2 separate regions of the Homo sapiens genome follow, and region 2 is linked to region 1. Evidence: fine-mapped expression QTL. Tissue or cell type: whole blood. Region 1 holds a variant in brackets; the other region holds the start of a gene. All regions are shown on one strand. Distances are between the middles of the regions.

Region 1 (2,756 bases):
CAATGCTGAGATAAACACGGCCCCTGGCAGCCAGGGGTGAGGACCCGGTGGGAAACAGGTCTATGGCTGAACTCTTGTCCCCGGCCCACTACAGGAAGGGCTGCAGCGAGGAAAACACCAGGTTGGGCGCTCCCTCCCGGGGGGAATCACAGATGGGCTCCAGCCCAGGAGCTGAGCCTAGAGGGATGGGATTTTCAGGCTGAGAGTTGGGGTGGTGAAGGCCCGGCAAGGAAACCTAGGGGAAGGGACCTGTGCACCAGCTTCTGGACAGCTCTAGTGTAGGGCGGAGGTAAGGGCTAGGGACCCACTCCCAGGGGCCCGAAGGCAGGACTGGAGTGTGTCCTTTCACTCTGAGGACAATGGTGAGGAAGGTGTTAGGGAGCGACAGGAGGAGAGCTGCGCTGCAGAAAGTTCATCCCGACAGCCACAGTAGAGAGGATGGGGTGCCCCAGGAGAAAGGGAGCCAGACCGAGCCTAGCACAGGGGGAGCCCGGCACGGCGCGGGCGCTCAGGAGAGAAGGAACAACAAATGGATGAGGGGGATGCTCAGGGCTGTCCTCGGGACAGCCGAGCGGGGCAAACTGCTTCGCAGCGAGAGCTGTTGTCACACTTTGGTGACTTTTCCAACTCTAAGTCTGGCCTCCTGAAACAAAGCAGAAGCCACGCCTTGGCGGGCCGCGGCGCGCAGCCCCTCAGGGTCGGGAAGCCCAACTTGGCGCGATCCCCGGCTCTCCGGCGGGGGCCTCCCTCGGGCTCGCCTTCCCCCCGGGTTCCCCGGAAACCGCGCCGGGGCGCTCCGCCCGCGCGCCCTCCACCCGCACCCCGGGCTCCCGCACTCCCCAGGACCTGGCTTGCGGCGGACGAGGGAGACGGCGAGGTCCGGGAGCGCGGGGTTCCGAACCATTCCGCAGCGGGCGAGCCCGCGGGCTCACCTGACTTGCCCATGGCCGGCTCCGCGCGCTCCTCGCTCCCCGCGGCTGCGCTGCACTGCGCTCGCCCGGCCCAGCGCCGCCCCAGAGCCCAGGACCGGGCTGATGCCGCGGCCCCTCCTCCGGCGCCGCCCGGCCCCCGCCTTATAAGG[A/C]GCGACAGCTGAGGGCGGAGGCGCCCGGGGCCACCCCGTGGGCCTCCCGGAGAGCTCACCCCTGGGAAGCAGCTCCGCGACTGCCGAGGGCTCCCCGGATGCGGCCGCGGGGCTCAAGCCTCCCGGACCCCACACCGAGCTGTCCCTTCCCGGGGCGCGTGGGGAAGCCCGCGCCTGCTGGGCCCCGGGTGGCTGCTCTGCGCCGACGCGCGGCGAGGACAGAGGGGCGCGCGGTCGCGGCACGAGGGGCGTTCCGGCCGGCGCCACCAGGGGACGGCCTCTCCCTGCCGCGGCCTGACACGACACACGCAGCCCCGGGGTGTGCCCCCATCTCCGGTGACTCTGGGCTCCGGAGGGCGGCTGGTCCGGGGAGGGGGATGCTCCTCTCCTAGGACACGCCCTCTAATGCCAGTCGGGGTGGAAGCGCCGCCGCCTCTGACCCGTCCACTCGCCCCTCATTGCCTCCCAGACCAAGCCAATTCCCACCCCTGCAGTCTGGCCCCAGACCTGTCTCCCCAACGCCCCACCTTTTCCCCATACTCCAGTCAAACTAGATGTCTTGTCATTCCCCAAACATGTTCTGGGATTTCCCACCTCCCTGCCTTTCCTCAGGCGGTCCCTCCTCCGGGAGTGCTGGCCCTGGAGCCACCATTCCAGTGCTGCCCATCCCTCGGGGTCGGCCGGTCTTTCCAACTGCCAGGTGCCCTGACCCTGGGAGCAGCACACACCAGGTACTGGGGAGATGTGGTCCCACCCATGGCCCCTGCCCCGTGGGAGAAGTGCACTTACTTGACCGCACAGCCCTAGTCACCTGTGCCAGACTTCCCGCAAGCGCTCCTTTCTGGGGAAGGGGCTCAGTACACCCCAAATGAAGGAAGCGAATTTTAAGGCTTTTCAATGAATGGGCACTGAAGTGAGCTGACCCACTGATGATAAGGCTAGAATTTGTAATACCAACGGCTTACGAATGTCCCGCAGGGCGATGGCTGGGCACTGTGCTCTCTATTCCTTTCCCCATGTCAGGCAAATACACCTACTGTATTTTAGTACCGTCATGAGTAATGACATTTCAGTCAATGCCAGACCACATATACTGTGGTAGTCCCAAGAGATTATGATACCATATTTTTACTATGTTTCTATGTTTACATCTGTTTATATATGCAAATTTTTACCATTGTGTTACAGTCACCTAAAGTATTCAGTATGGGTCAAATTGGTGCCCAACCCTGATTCAAAAGGGACTCCTGGGGCTGGGTGCGGTGGCTCACGCCTGTAATCCCAGCACTTCAGGAGGCGGAGGTGGGAGGATTCTTGAGCCCAGGAGTTCAAGACCAGCCTGAGGCAATATAGTGAGACCCCCCCTCCCATCTCTATAAACAAACAAAAGGGACTCCTGGTGCTAGGTGGGGATCTAACCCCCTCTATTCAATTCCCTCTCCCATTTTGTCAACAAATGCCTATTGAAATAATCAAATAAACACAGTAGGAAGAATTCCATGTTGCCCCTAGAATCTCTAGAAGGCTGTATTTCACATAACAAAAACTTTAAGGCCGTGGGTGGAGACAGTGAGGCTCAGCGGGCTGCTCACTGCACGCAGAGGGAAGCCCATCTGGGACCACCATGTTTCACTGACACCTTGAGGTCTGAGGACTGGAGGTGAGAGGGGCTGAG
Region 2 (2,628 bases), 100 kb after region 1:
CACCTCCCAAAGTGCTGGGATTACAGGGGAGAGCCTACCGCACCCGGCTGACTTTGCTTTTTTTTTTTTTTTTTTTAAGGTGTCTCTGCCTGTCTCCCTGTAAGCAATGCACTTCACCACTTTTGCATGCACACGTCCTAGCCATCTTTCAATGTCTAGTACAGCTAGGGGGAATCACTCCACTTTCCACTCATCCTAGGTCGATGTCCTCTCTCCCTCTGTGCACTCATACATGGCCCTTCATTTCCTCTGGACATTTCTGCCTTGAATTCGAGTTACTTCAATCTCCTGCTGTACCCCATCTCCTACCGAGAGAGCTTTTGGACGGAAGGAGTCGGCGTGCACTCAAAAGGCCAGCAAGCGGGAAGCAATCAATAAGCACTTAACAGTTTCCTATCCATCCTTGGTTTAGTTCTTGTAGAGCAAGAATTTCTCTCCTCAAGCCTGCCAGCCCCCGGGGGACAGGGTTTACTGATTTTTAATGTCTCCTGCCCGAGTCCAGGACCCACCACGCGGGCTGTGGGGACCGTCAGTGCTCACCGCCACCAAGGTCGTTATGAACCAAGTGCGGGTCAAGTAACAAGTAACAATAACTAACTAGGGCCGCGGTAGGGCGGCTGCGTATCCGAAATCCCATCTAAACCTCGCGACGATCCTGGGCGGGGGCATCGCACCCTTTTCTGACAAGCAGCAGAGGCAAGCGAAGGGGTCAGTGCCGAAGAGGGGGCCCGTGTCGGTGGGTGACAGACCAAGGCCTCAAACCCGAGTCACCGCCCAGAAGATCTTGGGGCGGAGAGAGTTCCTCACTCGCCCCGCCTCGGCACCAGCCTCTGGAGCGCTGAGACCTGGGGTCCCGGGGTCGCCGGACGTGGGCAGGGTCTGGGGGTCGCGCGCACCCCCGCCCCCTGCCCCGCGCCATCTTGGAGCGCTGTGGCGGCCGCTCCCGACAGCTTCGAACCGTTGCTCTGGAGGTTACTCACCCGCACTGCCCGGAGCCAGGCCCCCTGCCACCTCCGCGACCCCCGCCACGGCCAGCAGAAGGAGCAGCGCACCTCGCAGAGAGGCCCGGACGGTCGCCATGTCCGGGCCGGGCGGCTCCAGAGCCGCGGGATGCTCGGACCCAGCTTGGCCGCAGCCGCTGCCGCCGCTACCGCCGCCGCTCGCGCGAGGCCCCGCCCCCAGCGCCCGGCCCTTTGGTGACTGGCTGCGGCCCGCTCAAGCCCCGCCCCCTGCCTCACAGTGTTTCCAAAACCTCCCGGGGGCGGGAACGTGCCCCGTACCAGGGCTCTTTGTTATGGCCCAACTGTGTGTCGGCTTCTGCCAGGAGTCCACCAGCCCACGTTCTCCCAGAGTGAAGTCAGAGGATGTCAGAGCTGGGAGAGTCATTAGAAAACCTCTGCCACCTCCTGAGGTTTCGGGCCACTGAGGTGAGAGAGGAGACTGACCTTACTCAAGATCACACTGCAAGTTCACCTGAGAACAAGGGCTTAGTCCAAGGCCGAACCAAAGGGGCTTCTCTCCTTCATGTACCCTCAGTAATACTCGCAATATTCTTTCTGCCGAGACGCTGCCTCGCACCCAAAGAAAGCATGTCACCCGGGATCCTTCGGCCTCCCGCAGACACGGCCCCCTGACAAGGGTTCATCACTAGAGCTCTTTGGCACTATAGCCTCAATGTGTCTTTGTTGTACTTTAAAAATTATTTATTTATTTATTTAGGCAAGAGTCGCTCTGTCGCCCAAGCTGGGGTGCAGTGGCGCGATCTCGGCTCACTGCAACCTCCGCCTCCCGGGCTCAAGCGATCCTCCCACCTCAGCCTCCTGAATAGCTGGGACCACGGGCGCAGGTGACCACGCCTGGCTAATTTTTATATTTTTTTTGCAGAGAAGGGGTTTCACCATATTTCTCAAGCTGGTCTCGAACTCCTCGCCTCAAGCAATCCCCCAGCCTCCTCCTCCCAAAGTACGGGGATTGCAGGCGTGAGCCACTGTGCCTGGCCTTGATGTTACTATTAAGCACCTATTCCTGATAGGAAAAGAGGATAGGAGAACGCTTGTATACCTAGATGTGGAAAGCCTTGAATATCCGGCTGAGAAGTATAGACTTTGTCCAAGAGACAAGTTGGAAGTGGGTCCCACCCCACCCATCAGCCCAGCAGCTACGTGGAGAATGTTTAAGCCACTGGCTAGCAAAGCTAATTCATTGTCTCTTTTTTTCTCTGTGTGTTCCTGAATTAAACCCTTTTTCCTCCTTTTTTGAAAAAGCATGACCACCGTTTTAAATTCTCATGAAGACACCTGGGGCTAAATTACTTAAAACATTTTTAAAATTCCTTAATATTATTAAATATCCAGTCATTATTTACATTTTTCTTATTGTCTCATGATTTCTTTTTACAATTTTTCAAGTTCTAAACAAAATCCATATATTAAAGTTGGTTTTTATGTTTTTGGGCTCTTACATTTATCCTCTCTTTCGAGTTTACAAAAGGAAAACATGAATAAGTTAAAATATCTAAAACATCTCCTCTGATGACTCTGTTGCTTCTGTGTACAAGGTAAACTGAGGCACAATAAAATTTTAAAGTTTACTTCAGCACGCGGTGATTCATGAATTGAGAAGCTGCAA

The links. PIP is the estimated chance that this variant, and not a neighbour inherited with it, causes the effect.
Region 2: it holds the start of RECK, and the variant in region 1 is fine-mapped to the expression of RECK in whole blood (INTERVAL, PIP 0.94).

The regions. Positions count from the first base shown.
Region 1 is chr9:36,134,968-36,137,723 of GRCh38, reverse strand. It overlaps GLIPR2 (GLI pathogenesis related 2), which reads right to left and starts at 991. Exons shown (of 5, transcript NM_022343.4): 1 at 933-991. The coding sequence starts at 945. RefSeq lists silencers at 690-739, 770-1,339. The variant A/C (reference allele first, on the strand shown) is at 1,082.
Region 2 is chr9:36,035,451-36,038,078 of GRCh38, reverse strand. It overlaps RECK (reversion inducing cysteine rich protein with kazal motifs), which reads right to left and starts at 1,166. Exons shown (of 21, transcript NM_021111.3): 1 at 981-1,166. The coding sequence starts at 1,080. RefSeq lists silencers at 887-1,036, 1,047-1,246.